3 linked regions of the Homo sapiens genome follow. The protein of the gene in region 2 purifies or fractionates together with the protein of the main gene of each other region. This does not show direct contact. Each region holds a gene or a part of one and is shown on either strand. Other genes may lie near its edges. The genes, in order: VPS45, NAPA and BNIP1.

Region 1 (3,652 bases), on a different chromosome or scaffold from region 2:
GAATAGCTAAAAATAAGGAGGCAAATAAATGGACCATGTTTTTACTTCCCTATCTGTATTTTGATGAATATCACTTAAAATTATCCTTCTATTATGCCAAGAAAGGGTTTTGTACCTGGTTTAGCAATGGGGTGATGGCATCATCACAGCGATCTAAAATAAGGAGCAATGGAGGAACCTCTGTCCGACGGAATTCAAACAGTTCATATTCTTTAGTTATCACTTGCTGTGGGTGAGAGAGAAAGATGGTTTGTGCAACCATCTAGTTACATATAGAAATGATATAAATAGGAAATTAATAAACACTACATTTAACAATAGTTCTTTGCACCCACATAGATCTTCCATATGAAGGATTCAAAAGTCTCACAAAGTTTAGTAGCATACTATTTAAGAGGTTAGGATATGAAACCCTATTTTATAAGTGGTTTAACTGGACCAAAAAAAGTTAAATAGCTTGTGAATGTTTCTTGGGTTAAACCTAAGAATCTTAGCTCTAATTGTTGCTTTTTGTTTTAAATTACATATACCTACCTCTTTTCGCGGAAACCTAACATACAATCATCTCCTTGGTTGTAAATAAACTATTCCTTTAGTTTCTGAAATATGATAGAGAAATGAATGGCCTTTATGTTTTGGAACCAGGAATAGGTAATGCCATACCTTAACGCACTCTGCAAGTCTCTTTGCTGCCTCTGATGAGAGCTGATAACGAATCATGGGACACTTCTTCAGAGATAAAAGGAGAGCTGTAAGCCCTTGAGTTGTTCTAGATAGCTGGGCTGGATCCCAATTTCGACCCTTTTTGTTAAAAACATATATTCAGAGAAAATATTTGAATTTTCTCTTACAAGTCTAATTATTTGCTGAATTAACTCTCGACTGATAAATTAAACCTTTCCTTCCATACCTGGCAGCAACCCAAAATATTGAGGGAAAACAAATGTGGGTTCACAGCAATGTAATCACCATAAAATTCCTGCAAATAAAGCACCAAGAATAGTCATTCCATAAACTTCAATTGTATCAAGCAGTAATATTTTCATAAGTGATATAATATGATATAGCCAAACTTTGTGAAATACAGGTGTAAAGAGATACTAAATTGTTCAATTAATAATTGGGTAACAACAGTCAACGTGGGAGAATTAAAATAATTACAAAACAGTAGCAATAATAATAAATCTAACAAATAAAGGTTGTAAGGTTATACACATTATATTTCTGGAGACCTCTATGCATACTTATCAATTAGTAAAAATAAAATACTGCTAATAGGAGATACAATGTTCTACTCAGATAAAAAAGAACTTTGCTGTCCAATGTGTTGTCATGAGAGAGAATATAATTTAAAACAGGTATTCTTTTTATTCATTTATCACCTATCACATCCTTCTGAAAAATTCAAAACTAGTTTATTTGCTGCCTCTGAAAACAATATTCCTCATTTATGTGATAAACATATTCAAGTATTCATAATAAAACTTCTTTTGAGACAGACCTTTCCTTATTTTTTATTTTTAGACTCAAATATTTAAAAAGGGCCAACATACGAGATGTGTTACAGGACCAATATGTTTACCTGAACCTCAGCCACAACTTCCTGTTCATCAGCTTCAGCCAATGACTTCACGTCACTCTTGCTGATCACATTACTGAAATCTGAAACACATGAGTTGGGGTTGACTCAAAGGAGATAATTTCTGCTGCAATATATGTAAAAGGGCCTGATAGTTAAAGCCTAATGAATAAGTGACCTTCAAATTGGAATGGGTAGCAAAAATATATTTAATCCACAAATTCATAATTTTATATATATATATATATATATTTTAAAAGGACTGGCCAGGCGCGGTGGCTCACACCTGTAATCCCAGCACTTTGGGAGGCTGAGGCAGGTGGATCATGAGGTCAGGAGATCGAGACCATCCTGGCTAACACGGTGAAACCCCGTCTCTACTAAAAATACAAAAAAAAATTAGCTGGGCGTGGTGGCGGACGCCTGTAGTCCCAGCTACTCGGGAGGCTGAGACAGGAGAATGGCATGAACCCAGGAGGCAGAGCTTGCAGTGAGCCCAGATCAGGCCACTGCACTCCAGCCTGGGCGATAGAGGAAGACTCCATCGGAGGAATTGGAGAATGAGAATACTAGGGAAGTAAGTCATTTTATTGAAAATAAGGAGAAAGAAGTAAACTTTCATGCTGTCTTTTATATATAAACTGTACTACCAGGTAACCAAATAGATGAGGGAAAATTTTTCTTTGTGAAAACATTCCAGCTCAACAATAACTAACAAATGTTAATGACAGAATTAGAATATCATCATTTTTTCTAACCCCCAATGAATCAATTGAATGGACCCAGGCATTGAGCATCAGCAGCTACTAATATCAAAAGAATAAGCAGCCAATGAAAGCACACAATACCACCTATAAAGTATTCTTGCCAAGAAGAAATCAAATCTTAACCTAATTAAGGCTCTGTATTCACCTATGAATTTACAGGAACTAGAAGACAGAGGAATATTTTAAACTTCAAGGAACATGTTAAACTACCCCCTGGGGATGCAATCAGCAAGATCCAGTCTGTGGAAAACTTAACAGTTTCTTCAATAAATAAATTGCATGGGGCAGCAGGGGCAGGGGTGGGAGGACCTATACAGAAGATTAAGAAACTTAACATATCAACCAACAGCAATGTGTGAACCTTACTTTGATCCTGATTTTAAAAAACTGTAAAAAAAAAAAAAAAAAAAGACAATTTTAAATTTGAACGCTGAATGGTTATTTGAAAATGGTACTAAGAGTTCAAGACCAGCCTGGGCAACATCACTTGAACCTGGGAAGTTGAGGTTACAGTGAGCCGAGATCATGCCACTGCACTCTGTCTGGGTGACAGAGGGAGACTGTGTCTCAAAAAAAAAAAAAAAAAAAAAAAAGAATAAATAATTATTTTTCACTTTTAATCTAGATGTAATAATGGAAATGTGTTTTTTAAAAAAATGAGTCCTTATCTTTTAGAGATGCCTACTGAAATACTTATGGATAAAATTATATAATGTCTTAGATTTGCTTTAAAATAATATTGCTGGAGAAGTAGGTGACAGTATAGCTAAAACAAGATTGGGTGAGGCTCAATAATTGTTGAAACCAGCTGATAGGTACATTGGAACTTATGATACTATTCTACTTTTGTATGTCTTTAAAAGTTCGGTGCGGTGGCTCACACCTGTAATCCCATCACTTTGGGAGGCCAAGGTGGGCAGATCACACATGGAATTACCATATGACTCAGCAGTTGCACTCCTGGGGGTTATTTACCCCAGAGAATGAAGACTTAATGTTCACATAAAAATCTGTACACAGATATTTATAGCAGCTTTATTTGTAATAGCCAAAACTGGAAATAACTCATATGTCCTTCAATGGTGTATAGTTAAACAAACTGTGGTACATTCATACCATGGAATACTACTCAGCAATAAAAAGAAATGAACTATTTTTAAATTAAGAAAACTTTTTTTTTTGCAGTTCCAGCTCAAAGGAGGAATGAACTATTAATACACACAACAGGTGAGGTGTGGTGGCTCATGCCTGTAATCCCAGTACTTCGGGAGGCTGAAGCGGGCGTATCACCCAAGGTCAGGAGTTT
Region 2 (3,652 bases):
CTCCTCTTGACTTGGGGGACCTCATTAGTACCTCAAACCCGTAAGTCCCACTGCATTCTTCTGCCCTTAATAATACAACCAGGCTTAGCCCGCGAGGTCTGTAGTCTCTGTAACTGCTCAAACTCCCAATATCTACATAATCAGTAGAATAAAATCCACACACTCTGGAGTCCCACCAAATGGATTTCAGGGCCTCTCTTCACTGGCATAACTAGTGTTTAGTTTATTTTTAAGGAAGAGAAAAGGGAGGAGTGGGTACTTTCCCATTCAAATCATCCTCACCATCCCATCCCACACCCTGTGTCAACTGGCCCAACATTATACCTGGGAACTTGTCCACACCAACCCCAGCTGTGGAGGGGCTCAAAGGTAATTTTGGGAGCTGGGATGTGAGCATTCCTTCCCTCTGCACTGCGGATTCAGTGTGTCCAACCTGCCCATCCCTTTCAGCCACATGAAGTGCTCATTTCATCAAACCAGAGTCCCACAGCCACACACTTTGGGATTCGCTCAGTAGGGTCTGGATGGGGCCTGCAAATGAGATTTTTAACAATTGGGGTTTGGGGGGCCCAGGTAATTCAGCTGATCAGGTGAGTTTGAGAAGGAAAAATTGACTGAGACCGACTACCTGGAAAGCAGCCACCAGCGATCAGATCAGCGGCCAGGCCTGGCAATGTCAGCAGGCAAATAAATGCCCCCACGGTGGGCGGGCTGGTTGGGCCAGGGATCCTGGCCTCCTGAATCCACATCACACCAGGTAAATAATCTATTTATTCCTATCCTCTCTGTCATCTTGCCAGATGAAAAGCCTACCCTCTGCCTTCTGGGGCTGTGCTGATGCTGTCCCCCACCCTCTGCTGTCCCTGGGAAGTGGCCCTGAGCAATGTGTTCTTCCCGCACTCGCCCTGCTGCACTCTGTCTTCCCTCACCCACCTCACCTCAGCCAGCCCAACACACCTTGGGCCTTGTTTGGAGTGACTTCTTTTTTTTTTTTTTTTTTTTGAGATGGAGTTTCGCTCTTGTCGCCCAGGCTGGAGTACAGTGGCACGATCTCAGCTTACTGCAACCTCCAACTCCCGGGTTCAAGCAATTCTCCTGCCTCAGCCTCCTGAGTAGCTGGGATTACAGATGTGTGCCATCACACCCTACTAATTTTTGTATTATTAGTAGAGACAGGGTTTCACCACGTTGGCCAGGCTGGTCTCGAACTCCTGACCTCAAGTGGTCCACTCGCCTCGGCCTCCCAAAGTGCTGGGATTACAGGCATGAGCCACCGTGCCCAGCCTGGAATGACTTCTTTAGAACCCATTCCTGGCCTTGGAGAGGTAAGAAACTTTCAAAACCTTCTGGCTGAGAATCCTGAAGGGTCCTTTGGGGCCTGGCTGCAAAAAACCCTCAGAAGGACCTTCTCTGGAATGTTCTCTTAAAGGGACATTTTCAGACCTTAATCACAGGTCTGCCCACCCCACAGGTCCCCCAGCTCAGCCTTCCCTTCTTTTTGAGTGTGACTAAGTCCTATCCAGCTCCATGCACTCTCTGAAAAAGCACAGACCCTGGATGGGCAGAAATGACCCACGTCACTGAGTGGCCCACAGCGGGCAATCAACAATGAGCAGAGTCAGCCCAGCCGGGTTTATTTCAGGACGGACACAAAGCCTACCAGCTGCCCGGGCTGAAACTCTGTGATCCCAGGCTAAGCACAGCCAACCCTGCACGGGGTCAATGATTCTGTGGGGTGGAAAGGCCAGAGGGATTAACACCTGCTCAGGCCCCAGGCTTGCCTCCTTCTTCCCCTGCACCCCGCGGTCTTGCCCATTACCATGGCCAGGGGATGACAGGAGATCTCCAGGGTCCCATCCTCTTCTTTTAGAAATGGGAGTGAAGTCCCCAAAGGGGGAAAGTGACGTGCCTAGGTTCCAGTGGAAGATCCTGAAGAAGCCATTCACATACACATTTATTCACCTGGGGAACAGGTATCCGAGCATTTATTACGTGCCAGGAGATAACAACAGTACACGAAAGGAAAATCTAGCTGGGCCTCCTCTCCTGAGGGCCTGGGTGGCAGCGCATGTGACAGCTGACTGTCCCTCCCCCACTGACCTCCCCCAAGCTGCCTCTGCTTCACTCCTCCCATCCCACGGCTCTGAGCCACTCCGGGAATAGAGGGAACTGGTTTGGGCTGCCTGATGCAGGGCTGTCTATAATTACCCGCTCAGCTTTGCTCTCTCCCCCTCCAAGGCGGAGGAAGGAGTCTCAGGTCTCCCAAACACAGCCACCAACCTCAGGGACTGCCATATGGAAGGCTGGGCACTGCCAGGAATACACAGATGCCTGATGGGACCTGGGCCAGGGGGTTGTGCAGGGCAGAGTCTTAGCCCCCTCCTTCCTTCCTCCATCCACCAGGCACTTCCTGGCTGCCAGAAATACACCATGCCCTGAGACCCACCACCTGCAGCTCCCGAAGGACCTCACGAGGCAGGGTGGACAAAGTCAGGCCCCCATTTCGGGTCCTGGACTCACTCTATCTCTCTTGCCTCTGTGGAAGCCACAGCCACAGGCCTACGGTTTCCTCCTCAGACTTAAGGCCCACTGCCCCAAGTCTCCAGTCAGCACCCTCAGTGGGGAAGGTGTCCTAGGGCCCGTCACATGCCTGTGTCTTCCCTGTAAGCCCACCTCCTGCACGGCTCTCGAGACCATGTGCCTTAATCACGGCTGGCGCATGGCGTTCCCTGCCTCCCAGGCACTCCCCTGGAAGGAGCCCACAGCTCCTCACGAGAGCCCTTTGGGTGCTGCCCTTGCTTTACAGGCGAGGAAGCTGGGGCTCAGAGAGGGCGGAGGGCTTGTCCAAGCTTACCCTGCCAGGAAGCAGCAGGGCTTGGAAAGAGGACTGGGGCCCTGGGGATCCAGTCCTGCCCTTGCCTCTCACTCAGTGATCAGGAAGGCTTCCTTCCCCATGCCCAAGGCTCCTTGGGAAAATAAGGAGGGAGGACAAGGTCCCTGCCTGCCCCCACCCCTCCTCTAGATTAAAGAAGCCAGGGAGCCTGTACTGCCTAGGCTTCCCTCATCTCACGAGCAGAGGCTGCTCTCTGCTGGGGCTGCGTGGAGCATCCTCTAGGCAAAGGAGTATGAATTAAGCCAGCCCCCTACCGAGCCTGCCAGTAACAAGCCAACAGGCAGAAGGAACGTCAGAAAAAGTTAAGGCTGCCTGTGGTGCAGGGTCCACCCTGGCACAGGGAGCCGGGGGCCACCAGCCCTGCTAGTCCACTGACTGCACTGGAGCTGGGAGCTGCCAGAGGCTCAGCATCCTGAAGGCACCGCCACCAGTATCACCTGGAAGCGGGAAACCACCAGCTGCCTCCCGCCACTCTGCAGTGGGCCTTGCCTGACCAAGCAGAGTATGAGTTCCTGCAGGGCGGGGCCTGAGCCCAGCTCTGCTTTCCCATCTCTCCACAAGCCCCAGTTAACAACGGTGAAAGAATAAAGTGTCACAGGCTAACTGCCCAGCTCTGAAATCGCCACAGGACCCTCTTGTGACATGCCTGTCTGGGCAAAGACAAGGGGTAGAAAGAGAATGACTTTGGGGTGGCGAGACCTGGGCTGAAGTCCGTTTCAGGTACTTTGCTAAGTGTTCGACCTGGGGCTAGTTATCCCT
Region 3 (3,652 bases), on a different chromosome or scaffold from region 2:
ACTCCGTCTGTACTAAAAATACGAAAAATTAGCTGTGTGTGGTGGCACACACCTGTAATCCCAGCTACTTGGGAGGCTGAGGCAGGAGAATCGCTTGAACCCAGGAGGTGGAGGTTGCAGTGAGCAGAGATCACACCTGCACTCCAGCCTGGGAAACAGAGCCAGACTCCGTCTTAAAAAAAAACAAAAAAACAAAAGTATAAAGTTTTTAAAAGCTGTGTGTTAGTATGCTACTTTTTAGATGAGAAACAAGGAAGAAATTTTAAAAAAAAAGAAATTTGTCTTTTTAAATATTTGAGTAGAGAAACTCTGGAATGACATATCAGTAACAAAAGTGGTTACCTGTTTGGAAGAGTGGAACAAAAAACAAAACTGGGGCATAACTGAGACTTTTCACTGAATGTTGATACTTATAGACAGACACATACATAAAACATGTAAAAGGAACATCTTTTCAAAAATAAAAAATTAAGATGATTAAATCAGTACTGGAGATGAAGGCAGGAAGAGATCAGCTAGGTATGGTGACGCTGCTGAAAATCATATAGTTAACTCCAATAGCAAAAATTACACATTTTCAAAATTGCCCTTGAAAATCTCTGAGGTAGGCAAACACAGGACACAGACATACTGTTTCTCAGGGGTCCAACTGGCCAGCTTTTCTACCAGCTTTAGAACAGACTGTCTTCCTCTGTTAAGCAACAACAGAGTTGCTGGTGGGCTTTGGGGGCCATGTTATATGAAAAGCACAAGTCTTTTTTTTTTTTTTTTTTGAGACAGGGTCTTGCTCCGTCACCCAGGCTGGAGTGCAGTGGCACAATCTTGGCTCAATGCAACCTCCAACTCCCAGGTTCAAGCAATTCTCATGCCTCAGCCACCCAAACAGCTGGGATTACAGGCACGGGTCACCATACCCAGCTAATTTTTATACTTTTAGTAGAGATGGAGGTTGACCATGTTGACTAGGCTGGTCTTGAACTCCTGGCCTCAGGCGATCCACTCGCCTTGGCCTCCCAAAGTGCTGGGATTACAGGCGTGAGCCACTGTGCTGGCCAAAAAAGCTCAAGTCTTTAGACCTGATATAGTCTGAATATTTGTCCCTGCCCAAATCTCATGTTGAATGGTAATCCCCAGTGTTGGAGGTGGGGCCTGGTGGGAGGTGTTTGGATCATGGGGGTGGATCCCTAATGAATGGCATAAGTCATCCCCTTAGTGGTAAGTGAGCTCTCACTCAATCTCTCTCTTGCTCCTGCTTTTGTCATGTGACATGCCTGCTCCCTTTGCCTTCTGCCATGACTGGAAGCTTCCTGAAGCCTCCCCAGAAGCAGATACTGCTATGCTTCCCATACAGCCTGCAGAACCTTAAGCCAATTAAACCCATTTTTTTAAATAAATTACCCAGCCTCAGGTATTTCTTTACAGCAATGCAAGAAAGGCCTAATACAAAACCCCAATACCACAAGACCAGGTGCCACAAGACCCATCCAGGGATGGTGATATGGTTTGGCTGTGTCCCCACCCAAATCTCATCTTGAATTGTAACTCTCACAATATGTCATGGGAGGTACCTGGTGGGAGATGATTGAATTACAGAGGTGGGTCTTTCCTGCACTTTTCTCATGATAGTGAATGAGTCTCATGAGATCTGATGGTTTTAAAAACAGGAGTTTCCCTGCACAAGCTCTCTCTTTGCCTGCTGCCATCCATATAAGACGTGACTTGCTCCTCTTTGCCTTCTGCCATGATTGTGAGGCCTCCCCAGCCATGTCAGAAGTCCATTAAACTTCTTTTTCTTCCCAGTCTCACGTATGTCTTTATCAGCTGCATGAAAACAGACTAATACAGATGGGCAGATCCATGACACCCACCTCACCCTCACTGAAGGTACAGCAGGGGAAACATCTCCACTATTCAAACTGCTACTTCTAAGAGACCTCCAGAAGTCTAGAGGAGCAGGCATGTTTCCACACTCAGGTACCTCCTGACTCTCCTAGGTCCCACTAGGGCAGAGTAAGTGCTAGTTCTCTGCCAACCCAACATTAGGTCCTGTGGCTGCAGTGAGAAGAATTCCAGGAGAAAACTCAGGAATAAAAATGGAGAACGTAAGACATCAGACTGAAATTACTAGAAACCCTCAGGAAATAAAGAAGGAAGAAGAAACCAAGAAACCAGAAAAACCATCAGAACAGTAATCAACCCTTGGAGTGACCAGGAGATCCAGAGTTCCCTAAAAGAATGCAATTATCTCAAATTTGAATAACTGAAGAAGAATCATGAACAATATAAAGCAACTGCCTAGTGCTTCAAGTAGAGGGGCATGAAGAGGAGCCGGCAGGAATGTCTCCAGATAATGACAAGTTTGCAGGACTTTTACTGAACTACTCATGAGGCTAAACAGAGGCCAAGGAGCCAACCCTGTTCCTGTCCTCAGGGAGAGGGCCTACACAGGATTCCAGGATACAGATGGACAGCATCTTTTTAAGTGTGCAGATGCAGTCATCCTTCCAACTCCTGAGTTCCAGCCCTGGGCCTGTGCCATCCCTATTCACTTTGAGGGGCTGCTGTGGGCCCCTCTACCCATGAGCTGCATGCAGGATCCTTGGATGCCCAGATGGCAGCCTTGAAACATGACCCCTCCATAGTCAGCTCCATACGTGTTTCCTCTCAGCAGCCCCCAGACCCACAAGTGGTCTTCATCCTCTGATTCTGATCTAGATTCTGAACTTGGAAACAATTAGAAGCTGAATCCCAATTCTGTCTGAAAGCAACACAATAGTCTGGGCTCATGCCTGTAACCCCAGCACTTTCAGAGGCTGAGGCAGGAGGATTGCTTGAGCCCAGGAGTTTAAGACCAGCTCAAGCAACATAGAGCAAAAAATCCATCTCTATTAAAATATATATATATATATATATATATATATATATATATATATATATATATATATATTTTTTTTTTTTTTTTTTTTTTGACACAGAGTCTTGCTCTGTCACCAAGGCTAGAGTGCAGTGGCACGATCTCTGCTCACTGCAACCTGCACCTCCTGGGTTCAAGCGATTCTCCTGCCTCAGCCTCCTAAGTAGCTGAGATTACAGGTGTGTGCCACCATGCCCAGCTAATTTTTGCATTTATCAGAGACAGGGTTTTGCCATGTTGGCCAGGCTGTTCTCAAACTACTGGCCTCATTTTCATTTTTAAAAATGAAAGCAACAGAATAACATGATCTATACAGTGGTGCACAACTCTTTGCCCAGCCCAATGTAATAAGAATAAAATGTGAAATAAATAAAACAAACAAACATAACTGCTACTTGTCACCCTCTAGTGTTTTTTGAGACAGCACATATACCATACTTGAATTCAGGCATACTAAATGTGTATATGATGTGACTGGTGACTATTGAAATAAGGAAGATGCTGAGCAAAGTAACAGCATAAAAAAAAACCCAGGAGTGTGATGGATTGAGGTAGTGAATGAATGAATAGGGTAGAAAGAATGGCAGAGAAGAGAAAGTATTTGAAGTGGCCCCAGGATTTCAAAAATTCCAAGGATAATGGTGTTCCTGCCATTCACTCGTTCACACAGCTGGCAGTGTTCTGCATGCAAAAGTTTCTTGTTTTTTTTTTTGAGACAGAGTCTCGCTCTGTCGCCCA

The links.
Region 1: the proteins of NAPA (region 2) and VPS45 purify together in Homo sapiens (affinity purification with mass spectrometry; 3 studies listed by BioGRID and IntAct, with this or other methods). This does not show direct contact.
Region 3: the proteins of NAPA (region 2) and BNIP1 purify together in Homo sapiens (affinity purification with mass spectrometry; 3 studies listed by BioGRID and IntAct, with this or other methods). This does not show direct contact.

The regions. Positions count from the first base shown.
Region 1 is NC_000001.11:150,074,243-150,077,894, reverse strand, and holds part of VPS45 (vacuolar protein sorting-associated protein 45), read right to left. Parts: intron 1,663-3,652; coding exon 1,583-1,662; intron 980-1,582; coding exon 911-979; intron 802-910; coding exon 664-801; intron 227-663; coding exon 116-226; intron 1-115. UniProt on the Homo sapiens protein: May play a role in vesicle-mediated protein trafficking from the Golgi stack through the trans-Golgi network.
Region 2 is NC_000019.10:47,505,013-47,508,664, forward strand, and holds part of NAPA (alpha-soluble NSF attachment protein), read right to left. Parts: intron 1-3,652. UniProt on the Homo sapiens protein: Required for vesicular transport between the endoplasmic reticulum and the Golgi apparatus. Together with GNA12 promotes CDH5 localization to plasma membrane.
Region 3 is NC_000005.10:173,147,379-173,151,030, reverse strand, and holds part of BNIP1 (vesicle transport protein SEC20), read right to left. Parts: intron 1-3,652. UniProt on the Homo sapiens protein: As part of a SNARE complex may be involved in endoplasmic reticulum membranes fusion and be required for the maintenance of endoplasmic reticulum organization. Also plays a role in apoptosis.